Linked DNA regions of Homo sapiens. The protein of the gene in region 4 interacts with the protein of the main gene of each other region in a pairwise test. Each region holds a gene or a part of one and is shown on either strand. Other genes may lie near its edges.

Evidence for each region.
Region 1: the proteins of DNTTIP1 (region 4) and TRIM63 interact in a two-hybrid assay, tested with the Homo sapiens proteins (one large-scale study listed by BioGRID).
Region 2: the proteins of DNTTIP1 (region 4) and E2F6 interact in a two-hybrid assay, tested with the Homo sapiens proteins (one study listed by BioGRID).
Region 3: the proteins of DNTTIP1 (region 4) and HMBOX1 interact in binary tests that used the Homo sapiens proteins (3 or more experiments, as listed by UniProt).
Region 5: the proteins of DNTTIP1 (region 4) and TOR1A interact in binary tests that used the Homo sapiens proteins (3 or more experiments, as listed by UniProt).
Region 6: the proteins of DNTTIP1 (region 4) and ANP32B interact in binary tests that used the Homo sapiens proteins (3 or more experiments, as listed by UniProt).

Annotation. Positions count from the first base shown.
Region 1 is NC_000001.11:26,050,801-26,054,215, reverse strand, and holds the end of TRIM63 (E3 ubiquitin-protein ligase TRIM63), read left to right. Parts: intron 1-251; coding exon 252-323; intron 324-2,332; coding exon 2,333-2,343; 3' UTR 2,344-2,915; downstream 2,916-3,415. UniProt on the Homo sapiens protein: E3 ubiquitin ligase. Mediates the ubiquitination and subsequent proteasomal degradation of CKM, GMEB1 and HIBADH.
Region 2 is NC_000002.12:11,456,162-11,459,661, reverse strand, and holds part of E2F6 (transcription factor E2F6), read left to right. Parts: intron 1-1,309; exon of another isoform or gene 1,310-1,369; coding exon of another isoform or gene 1,370-1,381; intron 1,382-2,428; coding exon 2,429-2,483; intron 2,484-3,500. UniProt on the Homo sapiens protein: Inhibitor of E2F-dependent transcription. Binds DNA cooperatively with DP proteins through the E2 recognition site, 5'-TTTC[CG]CGC-3'. Has a preference for the 5'-TTTCCCGC-3' E2F recognition site.
Region 3 is NC_000008.11:28,896,895-28,900,394, forward strand, and holds part of HMBOX1 (homeobox-containing protein 1), read left to right. Parts: intron 1-3,500. UniProt on the Homo sapiens protein: Binds directly to 5'-TTAGGG-3' repeats in telomeric DNA. Associates with the telomerase complex at sites of active telomere processing and positively regulates telomere elongation.
Region 4 is NC_000020.11:45,801,954-45,805,453, forward strand, and holds part of DNTTIP1 (deoxynucleotidyltransferase terminal-interacting protein 1), read left to right. Parts: intron 1-45; coding exon 46-104; intron 105-1,379; coding exon 1,380-1,425; intron 1,426-3,192; coding exon 3,193-3,251; intron 3,252-3,352; coding exon 3,353-3,413; intron 3,414-3,500. UniProt on the Homo sapiens protein: Increases DNTT terminal deoxynucleotidyltransferase activity (in vitro). Also acts as a transcriptional regulator, binding to the consensus sequence 5'-GNTGCATG-3' following an AT-tract.
Region 5 is NC_000009.12:129,821,337-129,825,384, forward strand, and holds the start of TOR1A (torsin-1A precursor), read right to left. Parts: upstream 2,801-4,048; 5' UTR 2,750-2,800; coding exon 2,572-2,749; intron 1,511-2,571; coding exon 1,245-1,510; intron 1-1,244. UniProt on the Homo sapiens protein: Protein with chaperone functions important for the control of protein folding, processing, stability and localization as well as for the reduction of misfolded protein aggregates.
Region 6 is NC_000009.12:98,000,341-98,003,840, forward strand, and holds part of ANP32B (acidic leucine-rich nuclear phosphoprotein 32 family member B), read left to right. Parts: intron 1-3,500. UniProt on the Homo sapiens protein: Multifunctional protein that is involved in the regulation of many processes including cell proliferation, apoptosis, cell cycle progression or transcription.

The DNA.
Region 1 (3,415 bases), on a different chromosome or scaffold from region 4:
TTGCTGGAGCAAGGAAGTGACTTGAGCCCAGCTCCCTGGGACGGAGTGCGGGGGATTGCAGGAGCAGGGCCTCTGTGCAGCGTGGGTCTGGCAAGCCCATCCCCTCCCAGACCACTGCCGCCGCTGTGTGGCCGTTTGACCCGACTGGGCACAGGAAGGGGTTTAGACCGTGCTCTCTCTTGCCTGGTTCCTCTTCAAGTAGCTCCTCAAGGAACCGGCCCCATCCTAACACAAATGTTTTTTTGTCACAGATGAGGAAGAGGAAGAATTCATTGAAGAAGAAGATCAGGAAGAGGAAGAGTCCACAGAAGGGAAGGAAGAAGGTAAGAAATTCATCTACCTCCATTCCTTCGTTCCTTCATTCATTCCACAACAATCTGAGGTGCCTACTGTATGTGAAGCACTGTGTTAGACATTGGCAATGACGCTCAGAACTGTCCCCAGCACGTGCTTTAACCCTACTGAGGGTAAAGTCCTGTTCTCTTTACCCTTAGAAAAGAAAAAAACCCCAAACTATTCATAATAAAATGCTCCCATTTCACATCTAAATGATCTTCTTAAATGGAAAGCAATATGGCACAGCAGAGGGAAAAGACAGGGGCTCATGAGCTAGGCTGGGCCCATTGAGGTGTTTTGTTTGGCCAGCACTGTGTTTAAATTAAAACAAACAAACAAACAAACAAAACTACTTGCTGGACAGGCACGGTGGCTCGAGCCTGTAATCCCAGCACTTGGGGAGGCCAAGGCCAGCCTGGCCAACATGGTGAAACCCTGTCTCTACTAAACATACAAAAAATTAGCTGAATTTGGTGGCAGGCGCCTGTAGTACCAGCTACTTAGGAGGCTGAGGCAGGAGAATCGCTTGAACCTGGGAGGTGGAGGTTGCAGTGAGCCGAGATCGTGCCACTGCACTCCAGCCTGGGTGACAAGAGTGAGACTCCATCTCAAAAAATAAATAAATAAATACTTGCTGGCTGGGTGTGGTGGTACGTGCCTATAATCCCAGCACTTTGGGAGGCTGAGGCGGGAGGATTGCTTGAGACCTGGAGTTTGGGACCAGCCTGGTCAACAGCAAGTCCTCGTCTTTACAAAAATAATTTAAAAATTAGCCAGGCATGGTGGTACATATCTGTAGTCCTAGCTACTCGGAAGGCTGAGGCTGGAGGATTGCTTGAGCCCAAGAGGTAGAGGCTGCAGTGAGCTATGATTGCGCCACTGCACTCTTGCCTTGGCAACAGAGGACACTACACTGTCTCTTAAAAGAAAAAATTAATTGCTAACATTTTTAAAATTAGGTTTTTTTTAAGGGTTAAGAAAAAGGAGATTTGAACTAAGAATCTGCATTTTCACCTTGTGAAAGTTTAGAAAAAGCAAACAATGCTGGACTTGAACTTCCTTGTAGTCCCAGAGTGCTGGCTCTGGGCAGTGGCTCTCCCCTTTAAAGGGGACACGCTGGCATGGTGGCTCACGCCTGTAATCCTAGCACTTTGGGAGGCCGAGGCAGGCGGATCACCTGAGGTCAGGAGTTTGACACCATCCTGGCCAACATGGTGAAACCCCGTCTCTACTAAAAATACAAAAATTAGCCAGGCGTGGTGACGGGCACCTGTAATCCCAGCTACTTGGGAGGCTGAGGCAGGAGAATCGCTAGAACCCCAGGGGGGCGGAGCTTGCAGTGAGCCGAGATCACGCCACTTCACTCCAGCCTGGGCAAAAGAGTGAAACTCCATCTCAAAAAAAAACAAAGAAAAGAAAAGAAAAATGGGACATGCCCTTGCCAGTTTGCCCAGCCCCACCACCACCAGTCCCGCTTGCTTCACTCATTCATGTTATCTGCTGGCTCCTTGTAGGCATCTGAGTTTGCCAGCCTGGCAGAGTTTGATTAGGAGCCTGGGTTCTGAATCACAGCAGCTCACAATTTCTCTGAGTCTTGGGCTACTCATCTGTGTATGGGGGTCTAACAGTACTGACGTCAAAAGGTTGTAGTGGGAAGTGAATAAGATAATCGTTTAGCACGGTGTCTGATGCATAGGAAGGACGTTTGCTAATTAGCACATGCTTGCAAATGTTATTTTTCAAACCACAGGTACTGAAACTAAATTCCAATCCAGTTGAAAACTATAGGTAGTCTTTTGGAGTTTTGTACTGATGTACAATCCATAATATTTGGGCAGCTAAATTCTATTTTGGTTTTAAAAGGAAGAGACCGGGAGGAATTGGAGTTTGATGTTTTATTCAAACTCCTGTTTGAATAAACAGTAGCTTGGTAAGCCTTGGATCCTCCTGAGTCCCTGTCTCACCCCTTGCCTCTGTATCTTTTTCTTCATTTCAGGACACCAGTAAGGAGCTGGATGAATGAGAGGCCCCCAGATGCAGAGAGACTGGAGAGGGTGGGGAGGGGCCCAGCGGCCTTGGTGACAGGCCCAGGGTGGGAGGGGTCGGGGCCCCTGGAGGGGCAATGGGGAGGTGATGTCTTCTCTCTGCTCAGAGAGCAGGGACTAGGGTAGGACCCTCACCGCTGCGTCCAGCAGACACTGAACCAGAATTGGAAACGTGCTTGAAACAATCACACAGGACACTTTTCTACATTGGTGCAAAATGGAATATTTTGTACATTTTTAAAATGTGATTTTTGTATATACTTGTATATGTATGCCAATTTGGTGCTTTTTGTAAAGGAACTTTTGTATAATAATGCCTGGTCGTTGGGTGACCTGCGATTGTCAGAAAGAGGGGAAGGAAGCCAGGTTGATACAGCTGCCCACTTCCTTTCCTGAGCAGGAGGATGGGGTAGCACTCACAGGGACGATGTGCTGTATTTCAGTGCCTATCCCAGACATACGGGGTGGTAACTGAGTTTGTGTTATATGTTGTTTTAATAAATGCACAATGCTCTCTTCCTGTTCTTCAAAGGAGCCGGGGTTTCATTCAGCCTTTTTTTCCTGGAGATGAGGGTTGAGTGTGAATGAACAGGACCCCTGGTAGGAGGCAATGGCAGGGCTAGGCTTAGGTCCCAGTAAAGGAGTTCTCGACACCACCATTTCCCAATGTGGACTCCATGGAAAGCCAGCCCTGAGCTGGTCCTTCAAGAACAGGTTCAATGTGTTGTTGCTCTGGTTCTCCAGAAAACAGAGCCTGAGGCAAAATTTAAATGCTTTAGTTGCAGGTTATAGGGACTTCCCCGTGCTCACTGAAGGCTCACTGAAGGCTCACTGAAAATCATCAAGAAGAGGCAGATTAAGGCTGGGCAGGTGCAGTGGTTCATGCCTGTAATCCCAGCACTTTGGGAGGACAAGGAGGGCAGATCATCTGAGGTCAGGAGTTCCAGACCAGCCCGACCAACATGGTGAAGCCCCGTCTCTACTAAAAATACAAAATTAGTTGGGCGTGGTGGCGCATGCCTGCAATCCTAGCT
Region 2 (3,500 bases), on a different chromosome or scaffold from region 4:
TCTCCTCCCCCCACCCCGCCTCCCAAAGTCCTGGGATTACAGGCATGAGCCACCGCGCCTGGACTTATGTTTCTATCTATATGTCTGTATATGATGTCTGCCACTGAGGGGCAATGGTACTGTTGTGATTCCTCCAAGATAGAGTGTTTTTGTATTTGAAGAGGAAAAAAAAACAAATGAATGCTCTTGGAGACTGTTTTCCCACATACATCAGTATAGCCAATATGTAATGGAACTGCATTGATAGCAAAGAGTGGGGAAAACAAAGCCATCTTTTTTCATATTATGCCTAACTGAGGTGTTATTTCTGTACCAACCTGTGATCCACTGTCTAGATGAGATGGGTAGGGAGGTGTGTAGCAGAGAAGACACCCTAGAATGCATAGCTAGCGAGGCAGCCTCTTTGGGAGCCAGTAAGTAGAGTGTGTAAGTCCTGGGCCTGCTACTCTGAATTAAGAACGGGAACCTCTGCAGCAAGGCCCCTCTGAGCTTATATATAAGGATTTAGGATGTTTGTTTATGTGTGTTTCAAATCAATGTGATAAGGATGGATTTTTTTTTTTTCCATTCAAGAATCTTGCTACCGTAGCTGGCCCGTCTCATACTATTAGCAGAGGGGTTAAATGTAAAAATAGCAATGGCAGTTGGTCACACTTGTCTAATGTCTGACTTTGATAGGACTGCTTCAGAGTTTCACTGTTGGATACCATGTTTGCAAGTCACCATTGTCAGCACTGTTTGAGAGAGCTGGCCAGACCTAGTCCCTACCCCCAAGGCCAGCATTCCCAGCTCCAGTGTTGCATGCCCTAGCAGGTCTACGTGTTCAATTCTAACAACTAAATTAATTTTACAGTGGGATTCTGTCTCAATGGGAGTATTCCATATTGGGGTGATTTGTTAATAGATGCTATCATCTTGTCATAGATGATAAGGAAATCATTGTGCCGAGGATATTGTTAACACCAGTATAAACAAAGAGCTTCTTAACTGCTCACCTTGCCTTCAGGCTTCCTCATTTCCCAGTCCTTTTGCCATATTGCTGCCATACTTATATTTCTAAACCATTTACTTAATTATGTCCTAGTCTGGTTCAGAAACCTTTGGTGATTCTCTACTGGTTATGACATAAAGTCCAAACTCTTTAGCATTAGTTTTATGTGGTGCCAGCATGCCCTCCCAGCTTCAAAGTCAAGTCACTTACACACTGGCCACTTCAGTGGGTTCCCAGAAACATGCCATGCCATATACATCTTCACACCTTTGTTCATTTCCGGTACCACAATCCTGTCTTTTTTCTTCTCTCCCCACAGTTGTTTATTCAGGCAAATCTGGCTTGCTGGGCTAGGCTCAGCTGAGGGCTGCCTTCGCCATGAATCCTTCTGTGAGTTCCCTGTCTGGGTGTATCCCTAGTACTGCTGTTGATTCTCTTCTTAGAGTACCTATGAATTCACTTGCCCCAGTTTTGCTTTATGGCCAGTTTTTTCTTAGATAAGAGCTAAACCTGATGACAGCCTGTCTGGAGGCACATTAACATTGATGTTACTAGGAGTTTCTGTTCATAGGCTTTCATTTTAAGGTTTGGTTTCATTTTATTTATTTTTTACAGAAAAACAGTTTCTAAATGTTACTACCAGTTTTATGCAAACTTTCAGAGCCTCTAAATAGCTGGTAAAATGGTGAGCATTGATAATGGAGCTTCTACTAATTTCCTGGTTGTTTCAGGAATTTAAAAGAAACTTTTTATCTAACGCAAAAGTTTCTAGTTACCCACAGCATGCATTGTTTTCCATTGTTAGAAATGCTGCTGTTTTTACATTAATTATAATGGGAATGCATAGCTGCCTATGAAAGCTTGTGAGCAAATTTTGGGGAACCACGTGTACTTAATAATAGCAAGGAGTGAGCATGTGTTGGTTGAGATAGATCTTCTATCTCTACTAAGCTTTCCCAAGTCAGGGACAGTGTTGTAATGATCGTACCTGATGTATTCAGTATATTTTGTGTGTGTGTGCATGTTTTTTTGTTTTGTTTTGTTTTTTGAGACGGAGTCTTGCTGTGTTGCCCAGGCTGGAGTGCAGTGGCATGATCTTGGCTCACTGCAACCTCCACCTCCTAGATTCAAGCGATTCTCTTGCCACAGCCTCCCAAGTAGCTGGGACTACAGGTGCCTGCCACCACGCCCGGCTAATTTTTGTATTTTTAGTCGAGATGGGGTTTCACCATGTTGGCCAGGCTGGTCTCGAACTCCTCACCTCAGTGATGCACCTGCCTCGGCCTCCCAAAGTGCTGGGATTACAGGCGTGAGCCTCTGCCCAGCCAGTAATTATCATATTCATATTCCCAGACCTTTATACTATTGAGTAAAATGCTATTTGTTTGCATTGTTGTTTTAAAATCACTAAGTTAAATTTTTTATCTTTTTTTTCAGCCATCAAAAATAAGGATTAATTTAGAAGATAATGTACAATATGTGTCCATGAGAAGTAAGTTGATTCCTGAATAGGTTTTAGGTTTTGTTAGTTTGAACTTCTTATGATTAAAATGATTTGTTTAAGTGTATGAGTTGATGAGAAACTGAAATACAATTTGTTATGTGTACACTGAAATGTAAAGTTGCAAGTTTTAGTAACAACTCCTGAGGTTATGGGTTGAATCATGTGCACAAATGCCAGTTTATTCTCCATAGAACAGTCTGTATTTAAGGCTATTTTCTCAGAATTCCTCCTGGGAGAGAAATGTACTCTTTCCTTCTTGTCCCTTATCTTAGGTTAATGTTTAGGGTATCTGTTAGAGGCGATAGGATGTAAATGGCTCTAGTTCCCTCTTCTGGAAGTTTCCATGATAGACCGCCCCACCTCAGCTTCCTAATCTCAGTGGATACATAGTGCATCGATAAGTCAGTGTGAATCTTAGAAATACTCACCCTTAGTTTTGCCTCAGTGCCTGCCCCAGTCTCACCCATAGTTGGTCACTGAGTTTGGTCAGCTTCACCTTTGATGTGTTTCTTGCATCTGTCCCATACCACCAATTTATAATAATATCTAACATTTATTGAGCTCATACAGTGCCTGGCACTGCATTAAGCTCTCTGCATGGATTGTCACAATGACCTTTCAAAATATAGGTATGGATTAGAATTCTTACTTTATAAAGGCCCAGAGAGGCTGAGGTGAGTTGCTCAGAGTCAGGGTTGAATCTCTTACCTCTCTGACGCAAGAGCCCAGAGTCTTTACCACAACGTTGAATTGCTTCTTCTCGTTCAGGGTCTAACTTCCTCTGTAGCTGAAGTTGCTGGGTCTCCTTCTTAGAAGGCAGTCAGCTTCCAGGCTTTCCAACCTGGATGCTGGAAAAATCCAGGGGGATTTGTCTAATACAGAAATTGGATTATGATATCATTCAACCTAAGTTCTTCAGTGACGCTCTTTTACATGTAGAGAAAACCCTGATTCCTTGTATATTTGATTTTAAGTGTTTGCATTAAATTCATAAGCCACTTCATA
Region 3 (3,500 bases), on a different chromosome or scaffold from region 4:
TTAAAAGTTTATTTTTTAGATGAACCTGACATTGCAAACATACCAATTTTTTTTTTTGTTATGAGAATCTGAATATTGGCTAGGTTTTTTTTTTTTTTCTTTTTTTTGAGATGGAGTTTCGCTCTTGTTACCCAGGCTGGAGTACAATGGCGCGATGTCATCTCACCGCAACTTCTGCCACCCAGGTTCAAGTGATTCTCCTGCCTCAGCCTTCCTGAGTAGCTGGGATTATGGGCATGCGCCACCATGCCCGGCTAATTTTGTAGTTTTAATAGAGACGGGGTTTCTCCATGTTGGTCATGCTGGTCTCGAATCCCCCCTCAGGTGATCCACCCGCCTTGGCCTCCCAAAGTGCTGGGATTACAGGCGTAAGCCACTGGTCGGCTAGTTTTTTTTTTTTAAATGAGGAATTATAATATTAGGACCCATTAAAATTTTCTGGTAAAAGTTAACGATAACATTGAAATTGTCCACAAATAAAATGTGTAAGATTTAAATGAGGCTGGGCGTGGTGGCTCATGCCGGTAATCCCGGCACTTTGGGAGGCCAAGGCAGATGGATCATGAGGTCAGGAGTTCAAGACCAGCCTGACCAACATGGTGAAACTTTGCCTCTACTAAAAATACAAAAATATAGCCGGGCGTGGTGGCACACACCTGTACTCCCAGCTACTCAGGAGGCTGAGGCAGGAGAATCACTTGAACCTGGGAGGCGGAGGTTGCAGTGAGCCAAGGTGGCGCCACTGCACACCAGATTGGGCAACAGAGCGAGACTCTATCTCAAACAAACAAACAAAAAAAGATTTAAATTTTAAATAAATTCAAGGCTTACATGGTATGTTTGTTGCTAGAGAGGATATGTTAGAATCTGTGTTAGATAACCAAAATTACAGCTATTTTGACATTAGTTTGGTTTTGACAGTGTTAATGCAAACTTGTCAGATTAATTGATTGTCAGCATATGTCATAGTTTTATTTTGTACTTGTTGCAAGGGAACTAGCTTTAAAGGAAGTTAGTTCAAAGATATTTTCAGAAAAAGGATCTTTACAGAATAAAAGGGGAGGTTATGGTTACTATTTTTGTTAGGTACAAGTTAAAGGATAGTTACAGGGTTGGTTATACTTTGCTGCCCCTTAATCAGCCATATGATTATAAAGCCTGTCTTAAAAGATGAGGCTGTTAATCCAATATACTATCGATTATTACAGACAACAACGGAAGTCTGCTTTAAACAGGCTAACAAAATATTTTCAAATGTATTAACAAATAAAGGTAGATCACCTGATTTTTGTCTTCTCTGGGTTTGAGACAATTTTTCATTTGTCAATACTGTGATAATTTCTATTAAAAAAAGACAAAGTTTAATTTGTTTCATTAGCAGGAATATGACAAATATTGATGGTACTTCCTGATAAATAAGATTCATATTTACAAAGCTTTTTGGCTACCTGTGATTTCAGTTTTTTCCTGGTAGAATTATTTTTTCCTCCTTGGATTTATGTTTCTAGCTTTCTATTTGTCTTGGTGTACGTACTAAAAAATAATGCTTGAATTAGGGATCATTTGGCTTCAAGGACAGGCGTTGTAGGGATTCAGCTGTTTTGGGTTGAAGAAGAGTGACTAGACCTTGTGTGAATGGGAGAAACGTTAGGAATCTGAGAAGCTAGTCTCTCAAGCTCTCGTTCTGGTGATAAATGGTTTCTTGTCTCAGCATCTCCTTCCATGTCTGCTTCATCTCCCTTTCTCACTTCTCCCTTCCAGTTCTGTTTGTATTGCCCTGGTTTTTCATAGTCTCTGCTTCTCTGACTGGTAAGTGGATTTGATTTGCCATGGTGTTGACTTGAACTGTTCTTTCAACTAGAGTTTACCTGTTGATGGTGACAGTGTGTTTCTTTTAGTTCAGTTGGCAAGAGAGAAATCTGAATGCATTGCATGACCACCATGACTTAAATGTCTATCCTTATCCCGTGACCTTGGTGGGAGGTAGCGTGGAAAGCACCTTTTATATGAGGCTTAAGCTTTTAGATGCTTTTTATGAGGAGGGTTCTCTTGTTGGTGTTGAACAAGGCACTCAGTTAAACATGTCAAGTCTAGCAGTGCGTGATGAGGTACTTTGTGGGATACAAAGATAGGTTGGATTTAATCCTTTTCTGCAAGGATCAGTTTGCTGGAAATAGCAAAAGACTCCTATAATTTAAGATTTGCTTTTTATTCTAGTCACCTCAGGCAAACCAGAAAGATGACAAAGTAGGACTATAAGAACTAGCTAGGATTAAGGAAGGAGAATGAGAGGTAGCCCTGGATACATGAACGTACTATCTCTACAGTTTGGATCACTAACCTACTAAGCATGAAAGTATCTAGAAGCCATTGTATCAGGATCCTCATTGCTGCTATCAAAGACTATCCCTTATTGAATAAAGAAGCTCTTATTCATATCAAGTAGACATTCTTTTGTCCCATCATTAAGATCTAGAGACATCTTAGGAGAACTCATTTCATCACTACTCTAGGAACTGGAACATTCTCATAGGCACCCTCTATCTATATAGTGACAACTGTTCTCTTAGCAAATGTCATTCATCCCTGACAAGAAAATTTGTGCCTTCTTTCTTTAGAGACAATAAGCAGGAATTCAAATAGTTGAGTCTGTAGTAGTGAGCATCTTGTTCTCTGCAGATCTGGCAACAAAAGAATTGACATACTGGGTCAATCCAATGTCCAGTCAACACCATAGGTGATATTTAACAAAAGCTCCATGATTTCAGGGAAAGGAACTGGAGCTTTTTATTCCTATGTCAGTATTGGAGTTTATATGGACTTCAGAGCTAAAATTTCCATATCCAAGTCTTTATTATATTACCAAACCAGGGCCAAGATTTTTAGAAATAAGTACAAGTCAAGGATAGGCAACTAAGGAACCTAGAAGATTGGAGTCAGATTACAAAGCCACAGGAGATAAATAGTTGGGGAGTCACAGAGTTCTAAGCACTTAGGCTACAACAGAAGGAAACAGTGATCTCAACTTTTGTGTTGAAGAATTGCCTGGAAAAAGTATTAAAATTTTAGTTTCTGGCTGGGCGCAGTGGCTCACACCTGTAATCCCAGCACTTTGGGAGGCTGAGGTGGGCGGATCATGAGATCAGGAGTTCAAGACCAGCCTGGCCAACATGGTGAAACCCTGTTTCTATTAAAAATACTAAAACATTAGCTGGGCATCATGGCGCGCCTGTAATCCCAGCTACTCGGGAGGCTAAGGCAGGAGAATTGCTTGAACTGGGAACTGGGAGGCAGAGGTTGCAGTGAGCTGAGATTGCGCCACTGCACTCCAGCCTGGGCTACAGAGCAAGATTCCGTCTCAAAAAAAAAAAAAAAAAATATATATATATATATATATTTTGTTTCCTGAGTTCTACCCCCAGATTCCTAAAATCTGAGATGGGCCCAGGAATATATATCCTTCATAAGTATATCAGGTAATTCTAATTGGTATAGTCCTC
Region 4 (3,500 bases):
GAGTAACCACAGGGTCAGACCTCTGACAGCTGTTTTTTGTGGCAGAGGAAAGGACGGCCTCCTGGACACATCCTGTCAAGCGACCGGGCAGCCGCCGGCATGGTGTGAGTAGGGACCAACAGTGTGGTGAGAGCATAGGGGAGCAGACGGAGAGAGGGGCCCTGAAGGAAAAGAGTCCAGGGTTCTGTGCCTGTCAAAATCAGATCCATCAGCTTAAGTCATCGTGGAGGGGGGTTATCCTGGTTGGAGGGGTGAGGAAGGAGGGTAGTGAGGAGGAAATTGTTTTACCCCCTGAACGGTTTGGCCCAGCTTGATGAAAGATTAAACTCCAGAGGTTTGTCATTGTTAGTATATATTGGATGCTTATGACTGGTCTAAATACGTTACATACTTTACCTTTTAATCTTTATAGCCACCCTGTAAAGAAGATATCATTAATTTTTCAGATAACAGACTCAGAGAATTACTTGCCTAATGTCATATCGTTAACATTGCCTCCAAGACGGTCATTTTCAAATATATATTTTTTTAAGACTTAATTTTTTTAGAGCAGTTTTAGGTTCACAGCAAAATTGAGAGGAAGGTACAGACATATCCCGTATACTCCCTGACCCTACACATGCACAGCCTCCCCCATTATCGACATCAGGCACCAGAGTGGTACATTTGTTACATTTGATGAGCCTACTTTGACTCGTCTTGATCCTCAGAGTGCATAGTTTCCATGAGGGTTCACTCTTGGTATTGTACATGAACTTAGACAAATGCATAGTGACAGGCATCCACCATTCTAGTATCACACTGAGTGCTTTCAGTGCCCTAAAAATCCTCTGTGTTCTGCCTGTTCATCCTTCCTTCCCCCTCAACCAACCCCCAACCCCACTTTTTAAAAAAAATTCTGAAGCAGCAGAATCTTTTTCAAACAAAACTTTACATGGGAGCCCAGTATTTAAATCAAATAAAGCCACACTGGTCTGGTTCAGGGGCGTGGGGTTAGTTTGGAACAGCTGGCTTAGTAGATGGGCTAGTATTAACTGTCATACCTTAGATGTGTCTCCTACACGAAGCAGTTTTATTCCTCACAAACACAAGATAGGTAGGGCAGTTGCTGTTTTTGTCTCTTTTGACAGATGAGAAAACTGCCACTCAGAGGTTCTTGGAGTTGCTCATGCCACTATGTAAGAGCAGAGCTAGTGCTAGAATGGCTTCTAGTCCAGTGCTTTTTTTCCCTTTGTTCCTCCTCTTATGTGTCACCACGAAGGAGGATGTCCAGGGCTAAAGTGAGAGTGTGTGAGGAACTCCTACCACCACCAGCAAGCTGGCATTTAGTCCTAGGTCTCACCTTGGAGAATTCACCTTTATTCTTTCCTTCCAAGCAGATGGAAACCAAAATCCTGTGAACCAATTCGCCGGGAAGGCCCCAAGGTATGATTATGTGAGCATGGCAGAGATCACGATCCCAGGAGATAGTCCCACTATCTCTAGGACCCACCATGAGGGAAAGGGGCAGGGGGCGAAGGGTGCATGCACACCATTCCAGAGCCATCTGCCCCTCTCCACCTCCAGCCACACTGGCCTCAGAGAGGATCCTGTGTAGGAATTGGAGTTAGAGGCAAAACAAAGAGAGGGCTTGAGTCTTTGCTGAAGCCTTCTCCTTATAGGAGTTAGTGGTCACTAATACTGATTCAATACTTAGTATGTAACGGGCAGTGTCCTAAATCTTTTGTGTAGACCATCTCATTTAATCTTTATAACAAACTTATGAGATCAATTCTGTGAACCATTCTATAAATGAGGCGTTTCCTTTTCTGCCAGCTTCCCTGTGGGCATAAATTATTTTATTCAGTTGTCTTATACACTTAATGCACTTAAGACTTGCCCAAAGTCACATAACTCGTAAGTGATCGAGCTGAGTCTCAAACCCAAGACCCGCTGACACCAGAGTCTGTGCTCTCAACCATTAGCCTCTGTTGCCTCCCTCTCTCTCCTGAGTTCTTCCTCAGCAGTGACTTATATAAATGGTTGTTCCCCAGAATTCTCTCCTTGGCCCACTTCTCCATCTAAAGTAACTCTCTGGATAATCTAAAACATATACTCTTATGGTTTCAGGGACCACCATGTTCTAAAACTCCCATACCTCTTTGTCCATCCCATGCCTCTTTCTACTTTAAAACTTGTTTATCCTACTATCTGCTTGACCACTCTGCTGGAAGTTTCATAGGCATTTCAGACTCAGCATATCCAAACATGAAATTAGAATCTTTCCTCACAGCCCTTCTTTACATTCGTTATCTTAATCATCTTTGCCTCCTCCTCCTCTTCCTTACCTCCCTACACCCAGTCGAGTCCTGGACAATTCTTCCTCTTAAATATATTGCAGTTCCTATTTCCTTCTGTTCATCCTTACTGCTGCCCTAGCTCAGGCCCTTAGCAGCTTTCCAACTGCTTTATCACAGCGGCCTCTAAACTGCTCTCCCTGCCTGTAGTCTTGCCCCTTCAAATCCATTATCCACATTGCTAGAAGACTAAGCTATCTTTAAAGGAAATCTGACTCTCACTCCCTGTTTAGAGGCCTTCAGCGATTCCCCATTGCCTACAGAAGAAATAAAATGCAGTCCCCTGAACATAACCTCCTAAGACCTCCAACTCCTCTGTGTTTCTCTCTCCAGCCCCATCAGCTGCCACTCCCTAATTTGTACTCTCTCTGTTAGCAGCACAGAATTACTAGTAGTTTCTCCAGCAGGCCAAGCTGCCTCTCACCTGTCTTTGCTCATGCTGCCCCCTGTCTGGAATGCCCTTGTTCCTGACCCCCTTTACCCCAACTTGTGCTCACCCTTTCAGAATTAACTTGGGAAATGCCTCTCTAAGGAAGCCTTCCTGGCTGGACCCTCCCCTCGGCAGCCCTCAGACCCTGCACTCACTTGTGTCCTTGCCTCATCGCACAATGGTGTAATTATCTGTACATATGTTGGTGGCATCCTAGAAAACAGAGACTGTATCTTATTCATCTCTTTATCCCCAGTATCTAGCACAGACAGGGCCTAGCATATTGTGAGTACTCAGTGTCTTGGGTCAACTGTTGATTAAATAATAGACAAGGGGAAGGGTTAGAAAAGGGTAGGGGGAGGAGTGTTTCTGTCCTACCCATCAGATTAAACTTCACCCTCACGAGCTTCTCTATTTTTTGCACAGTGGGACCCAGCTCGCCTGAATGAATCTACCACCTTTGTGTTGGGATCTCGAGCCAACAAGTAAGTTTAAGAGCTTTGGCACTGATTGAGGAAACAGCTCAGGAGTTCACTAGTAGGACTACACTTTCTGGAATCTTGACCACTTGGCTTTTACTTTTCAGAGCCCTGGGGATGGGGGGCACCAGAGGAAGAATCTACATCAAGCACCCACACCTCTTTAAGGTAGGTGACTGCTGGGAGGAAAGCAGGCCATTGCATTGGGAGTAGACTGGGAACTCCACTCAGCACAGAGAAGCTTAGAACAAACAC
Region 5 (4,048 bases), on a different chromosome or scaffold from region 4:
TGACTGTTTTGCCCATCTTGCAGGTCTGCTACAAGGATCTAAAAGGCAACAGTTAACATTTATTTGTAACATGCACCAGGTACATGTTATGCACTTGACAGACAGAGCTCCCTGGATTGTTACAAGCAACACTTTGTAAGTCAGAATCTGAGTCTCAGGTCAGGCAACTTTCCTAAGACTACGGAGCTGGGAGAGTGTTAGGACTCAAATCCAGATGTGTCTGCTGCCAAAGCCCAAGCTGCTCATCAGTGAGTTCAACCATAAAAGCTGTTTGCGGCTGGGCAAGGTGGCTCACGCCTGTAATCCTAGCACTCTGGGAGGCTGAGGTAGGCAGATCACTTGAGGTCAGGAGTTCGAGACCAGCCTGGCCAATGTGAGGAAACCCCATCTCTACTAGAAATACAAAAATTAGCCGGCTGTGGTGGCACATGCCTGTAGTCACAGCTACTTGGGAGGCTGAGGCAGGAGAATCGCTTGAACCGGGAAGGTGGAGGCTGTAGTGAGCTGAGATGGCGTCACTGCACTCCAGCCTGGACAACAGAGTGAGACCCTGACTCAAAGAAAAAAAAAAAAAGGCAGTTTACAACAGTAGGTTCAACAAACTTAGGACTCTACATGTTTCCTCTTTCACAAAATGAGTGAGATGTGGCCAGGCATGGTGGCTCACGCCTGTAATCCCAGCACTTCGGGAAGCTGAGGCAGGCACATCACCTGAGATCAGGAGTTCGAGACCAGCCTGGCCAAGTTGGCAAAACCCCATCTCTACTAAAAATACAAAAATTAGCTGGGCATGGTGGCAGGACCCTGTAATCCCAGCTACCCGGGAGGCTGAGGCAGGATAATTGCTTCAACCGGGAGGCAGAGGTTGCAGTGAGCTGAGATCATGCCATTGCACTCCAGCCCGGGTAAGAAGAGTGAAACTCCGTCTCAAAATAAAGAAAAAAATAAAAAAATGAGTGAGATGTGTTGATCTCTAAGATGGATTTGATCATGTCCACCTCTAAAATCCCATGACCCTACATACTCACTGGACCGATTTTCAGAACCCACCACAAAGCTTTGATGGTATTAACTGCTCCACGCATCTCAAACTCTTAACTTCTACACCTTTCCAAGGGGAACTGAGACATGAACCGTTTTCCGGGCTCACTCATTTCAACATAGAACTCCCAAATCTCATCCCACAACAAAGAGACCCCAAACCCGATGACATCCAGGAAGGGATTCCAAACTTCCATCCTTGCCTTGTACAAGGTGATGTTTGAAGCATGTGGAAAGTGCAATGTGGCCACAAACAGGTGGACATAGTCACTGTTCAGACCACCCTCGTAAATATTCTCTGCGATGATCTTGCTGACGAAATTTTTGCCGGTGCCTGTCCACCCGTGCAGGGAGAGCGTGAGAGGTTTCTTGGGCTTTGGGTTGTTTATGAAACCAAACACGGCATTTAAGATGATTTTCTTTGCAAGATGCTGTCCAAAGAGGTTGTCGTCCAGATCCTTCTGCAGTGCTGGGAAAGACAAAGCCAATCAGGAGTGGGGAAGAAACAGCGGCAAAATGTAGCCACATTTACAGCCCATAAGAAAGCCAGCAAAGCCGTCTAGACGCCCTCCAAGCACCTTGCGAAACCTCAAGTACTGCGGTCTGTAAGCTCCTGGCCCAGAGGGGACGGCGGTCCAGGGAGCCCTCCCTTTGCTGGTCCTGCCTATTCTAAAGCCCTGGCCCGACTCCTTCCCGAAAAGCCCCTTGGTGCCACTGCCACTGCCACCAGTTTGCACCCCTAACCCCTGTGCTGCTCCTCCCACCCCAAGGCAGAGCCGGGAAAGGAAACAGTTTGGTCCCTCCTGGTCGGCTGCGGAAGAGTCCTCACCATCCTTCCTGTCTCCCGCTAGGCTAGAAAGGAGGCAGAACCCACTTCGGAGGGAGGTTACCACTGGTCCACCCCCAGCTTAGCGCAAAGTAGGCCAACCTGCAGCCTGGCTCCTCAGGTCTCCGACTTAAGTCTGGCACGTCTGTGGTCATGGCCGAGGAGCCAGGCCTCATCCTGCAGGCCGGCCGCTTGGCTTCCGGGGTCCGGCCCCCGCGGACTCAGCTCTGCCCAGGCCCGGCCCTCCTGGGATGTGACCCCTACCCCGGCCTGGCCCTAGTGCCATCCCCCAGCCCCAGCCCCAGCCCCAGCCCCCGCTCCTGAGCCCCAGCCCCCAAACTCCGCTCCAGCCCCAGTCCTAGCCCGGCCCTACTGCCATCCCCCAGCCTCCATCCACCATCCTCAATCCCCTAGCCCCAGCCAACCGCCCTGGTCTTAACCCAGCCCTAGTGCGATCCCCCAGCCCCACCCCCAGCCCCCGGGCCCCGCTCCATCCCCCAGCCCCAGCCCCAGCCCCAACCCGGCCCTAGTGCCATCGCCCAGCCCCAGCCCCCAGGCCCCGCTCCAGCCCTAGTCCTAGCCCGGCCCTGGTGCCATCCCCCGGCCTCCATCCTCCATTCTCCATGCCCTGGTCCTAGTTCAGCCCTAGTGCCATCGCCCAGCCCCAGCCCCAGCCCCAGCCTCCAGCCCCCGCCCCAGCCTACCCTCCCGGCTAAGGCTCCGCTTCTGCCCGCAGCACTCGGCGAAGAGGCAGTAGAGACGCGGGTAGATGTAGCCGGTGAGGACGCCGGCCAGGGCCAGTCCCAGGCTGATGGGCTCCACCGCCTGCACCACGGACGGCGCCAGCAGCAGCAGGCCCAGCACGGCCCGGCCCAGCTTCATGCCCGGACCCGCGCCACCCTGCTTGTTCTCGCGCCGACCGCGAACCGGTGCAGCCGCCAGACCCACGCTTCCGGTTCCTCCTCTCGCGGAGGCCATCTTTCTTCAGGGCAGCCCTCCTCCCGACGCCGGCGGCCGCCATCTTTGTTCGGTACAAAGCCCTGTTTTGCTTCCGGAAACTCGGTTCTGCTCCGCCCCTGTTGGCCACGTGTTTTTGTTTATGGACGTTATTTTTGCCAGGCATGGTGGCTCCTGCCTGTAATCCCAGCCCTTTGGGAGGCTGAGGCGGGCGGATCACCTGAGGTCAGGAGTTCGAGACCAGCCTGACCAACATGGTGAAACCACGTCTCTACTAAAAATATAAAATTAGCCGGGTGTGGTGGTAGGCACCTGTAGCCCTAGCTACTGGGGAGGCTGACACATGAGAATCGCTTGAACCCAGGAGGCGGAGATTGCAGTGAGCCGAGATCTCACCACTGCACTCCAGCCTGGGAGACAGAGCAAGACTGTGTCCCCTCCCCGCAAATAATAATAATAATAATAATAATAATAACGGACGTTATTTTTTAGAACAGATTTACAGAAAAATTGAGAAGATAGTAGAGAGTTCCCATGTGCCACCCATCCCTGCAATTTCCCCTATTACTAAAATCTTACATTATTAGTGTGCTACATTTGTTAAAATTAACGATGCACTGTTGTCATATTAACTAAAGTGTAGTTTATTCAGATTTCCTTCCTTTTACTTAATGCCTTTTTCTGCTGCAGGTTTCCATTCAGGATACCACATTATATTTCGTTGTCATGTCTTAGACTACTGTTAATGACAGTGTCTCAGCCTTTTATTTTTATTTTAGCTGGAGTGCAGTGGCATGATCTCAGCTCACTGCAACCTCTGCCTCCCAGGTTCAAGCGATTCTCCTGTCTCAGCCTCCTGAGCAGCTGGGATTACAGGCACACACCACCATGCCCGGCTAATTTTTGTATTTTTGGTAGAGACGGGGTTTCACCATGTTGGCCAGGATGGTCTTGATCTGACCTCATGATCTGCCCGTCTCAGCCTCCCAAAGTGCTGGGATTACAGGCGTGAGCCACCGCGCCTGGCCTCAGCTTTTTATTTTTGATGACCTTGATAGTTTTGAGGAGTACTGGCCAAATCTTTGGTGGGCTGGCCCTCTATTGGGATTTGATGTTTTTCTCAGGATTAGACAAGCGTTATGGCGTTTTGGAAGGAAGATCACAGAGGTAAAGTGCTATGCTCATCACATCCTACCAAGGAAGGGTTCTTACTGTTCAACGTTA
Region 6 (3,500 bases), on a different chromosome or scaffold from region 4:
TGTGATGCCTCACCAGTGCTCCATGCATTTTGCCCTTTTTCCTATTACAGGTATACCCAGATACTCGGGCTCTTACTAGTTTTATTCGTTTCCTTCAAACCAACCCCCATTTCCAGTATTTAAGCCGACATTTACTGACTTTTGCTGCATCCAAGGACATGAACATTTGCCCATTGTATCCTTAAGTAACCCAGAGAAGAGAGAATGACTGTCCTCTTTTTAGAGATGAGGAAGCTGAGTTTAGAGAATGTAGATAATTGCTCAGGAGAAATGGCAGAGTAGGGATTCAAATCTAAGTCTAGGCTGGGCACGGTGGTTCACGCCTGTAATCCCAGCACTTTGGGAGGCCGAGGCGGGCAGATCACTTGAGGTCAGGAGTTTGAGACCAGCCTGGCCAACGTGAAACCCCATCTCTACTAAAAATACAAAAAAGTACCCAGGCGTGGTGGCAGGCGCCTATAATTCCAGCTACTTGGGAGGCTGAGGCAGGAGAATCACTTGAACCCAGGAGGCGAAGGTTGCAGTGAGCTGAGATCATGCCTCTGCACTCCAGCCTGGGTGACAGAACAAGACTCCATCTCAAAAAAAAAAAAAAAAAAATTCGAAGTCTGCTGTGTTTTCCATAGCCCTTGGGACCTCTTCTTCTCTTTCCACCTGTAAATTTATTTCATGCCCAAATTTCCTTAAGCTGGGAATTCCAACAGGAGCACCAAATTTTAACTGCTGATGCTTTCCCGTTCACATGGGCTACACTAAGCCTTTGTTTATTGGTTAGTGACAGACATACTAATCCTAGGTTGTGAGCATAAGAAACCCTTCTCCCCGCCACCCCCCTTTTTTTTTCTGGTTTAATTTTTTTTTTTTTTTTTTAGACGGAGTCTCGCTCTGTCACCCAGGCTGGAGTGCAGTGGCGCCATCTCGGCTCATTGCAAGCTCCGCCTTCTGGGTTCACGCCATTCTCCTGCCTCAGCCTCCCAAGTAGCTGGGACTACAGGCACCTGCCACCATGCCTGGCTAAGTTTTTTGTATTTTTAGTAGAGATGGGGTTTCACTGTGTTTGCCAGGATGGTCTCGATCTCCTGAGCTCGTGATCCGCCTGCCTCAGCCTCCCAAAGCGCTGGGATTACAGGCGTGAGCCACCATGCCTGGCCTTCTCTTTTAATTTTTAAAGAACAGAGTAGCAGGCAGTACCTTTTCACTGTTGGCCAGTTGATGACTGGCCATTACCTAGTTCTCGTGGCAGCCTGAATCCTCTGATTATCAGAAGCCTTTTTCAGTGTTGTAGCACACAGCAATGGAGCAGAAGCAAATACTGTGTGGGAGTTGTTTGCTTGAGTTTTTTCCTGATCTGGTCAGTAATGTATGAGAGGACCCTCTGGTGGCTGTGAAAGTCTCAGTCCCCCAGGATAGTGAAGGATAAAAAGTAATCTTCGTTGTGTTCACCATTTTTAGAGGATCTGCTATACCCATACATTTACTGGGTGCTTTATGCATGTTTTATTAGTAATTGTAAAAAAAAAAACCTTCGATACAAAGTGGATAGAAATAGCATGGCCCTTGTTTTATATTGAGGAAGCTAAGGCTTGGGTGAGGCTGAATCCCTTGTCCAGAGTCACACACCCTGTGGCAGAGCCACAGGGCTACACACCAGAGCTATTTCGAAAAGCCTGGGGTCCCGCCATTCTGCTATACTTGGCACTCAGATTCCTGGCGGTGCTAGGTTGGTCTCCTGAAGTTCTAACTTGGAATTAAGTAAATCTGTAGGAGAAGGTGAAGGGGGGAAGAGTTGGGTCCATTTTGACTTCTGGCAGTATTCTTCAGTGGGGAAAAACACCATCCTCATCCTCATTAACCACATACATTTTGAACACCGTCTACTTTGAGCCCAGTTCTTATAGTCAATGCAATGATTGTGAATGCCTCTGCTTGCTACAGGGACATTAATCGAGAGACAAAGAAGGCATCAATTCAAACTTCCTTGGACACCTTTTTTAAGAGACCTGGGCCATCCAAACCATCCCCCAAAGCCCTTCTAAATTCTAAGAAGGCAAGCAAAATTATTGTTAATAAAATGTTTAATGTTTATTATGGCTAGCCTATTAGCTTACATCAAATTTCTGGTATGGTAGAGTTGTAATTTTTTTTAATCAGTATTTACACATTACATTGGGATCCTGAATAATCTGTGTGTAGTGTATTTTGTGCCTATTGGGCCTTAAAGCACAATTTTACTACTTTCAGCAGTTCCAGAGTACTACAGTTATTTGGGATTTTTGTTGTTTTCTTGCTTTCATTTCATTTTTCAAACTACTGATTGGCATGTCCAAATTGTTTGAGAAGGGGTGCTTTGCCAGGAAGTAGCCAAAAATCTCACATAATTGTACAGTTTCAGAAACAGGAGAGCCTTGGAGGCCCTGTGTACTGGAAGAGTCAATGAAACTAGATAGAGAAAGGGCTTTTGGTATTAAAAAGCATTAGATAAATATCAGAGGTTGTATGTGTTTTTGTGCACCTATTTCTAGGAAATAATTCTGAAATATAAATGGCTCATTCCTTTAAGTGGAGAATTTTTAGAGTGAACCTTTTTGGAAAAGCTGCCTAAAGCTGACTCTAGCTGGCATCGAGTCAGCCTTTGTGAAGAGAAAGCCAGTATGCTAGCTAGCCATCTGGGGTGGCATTGCAGCATTTTTTTCCTCTTTGGCAAGAAGTCATACCTGGGCTTCTGGAAGTCAGGGCCTGACTGGAAGGGAAGCTAATCTGAAAATTACATGATACAAAAGCAGCTCTATGACCAGAAGGGCTGGGGACAGCTTTCTTAAAACGTCAAGGAACTGACTATATAAGCACATTGTTTGATCCACAGACTCTTGGATCATTGTACAATTTGTGTTTTGAGGGGTGCAACGTTTTCCTGTTGCTGTAACCCTGCTGTGTGTTCCCTGCATGAATAAAACAAGTGTGGGAGCCTCTTTCTTCATCAAGAAGATGAAGTTCTTCATGTGCAGGGGTCAGTAGCCCTTTTCTCTAAGGGCCAAATAGTAGGTTCATTTGGCTTTGTAGCCTGTTTATATAGTCTCTGTCACAACTAGTCTGCTTGGCCATTTTAGTACATAAGGAGCCATACATAAATAAATGAGTGTGACTGTGTTCCAATGGAGCTTATTTTACAAAAACAAGTGGTGGGCCAGAATTGGCCACTGGACCACCGGTTCCCAACCCCTGCTCTAGAGCCTTGAGGCAGATTTTCACACCATTTTATATCTCCTCAGAACTACATAGATACCTTGAGTTCTGAAAATAAGGTTTTGTTTTGTCTGCATTTCTTCTCAGGTCCTTGTGAGTGTTGTAACAGCTTTCCTAATAAAGCAGCAAAACCTGTTAAGCATCAACATTTATTTTTTTAGAAATTATTTTATGTGGAGGTCCTCTTAAAGTTTGTTTGGGTGTTTTTAGTACTATCTTCTTAGAGAATACCGAAGTTTTTCTCTTGATTCAGAACC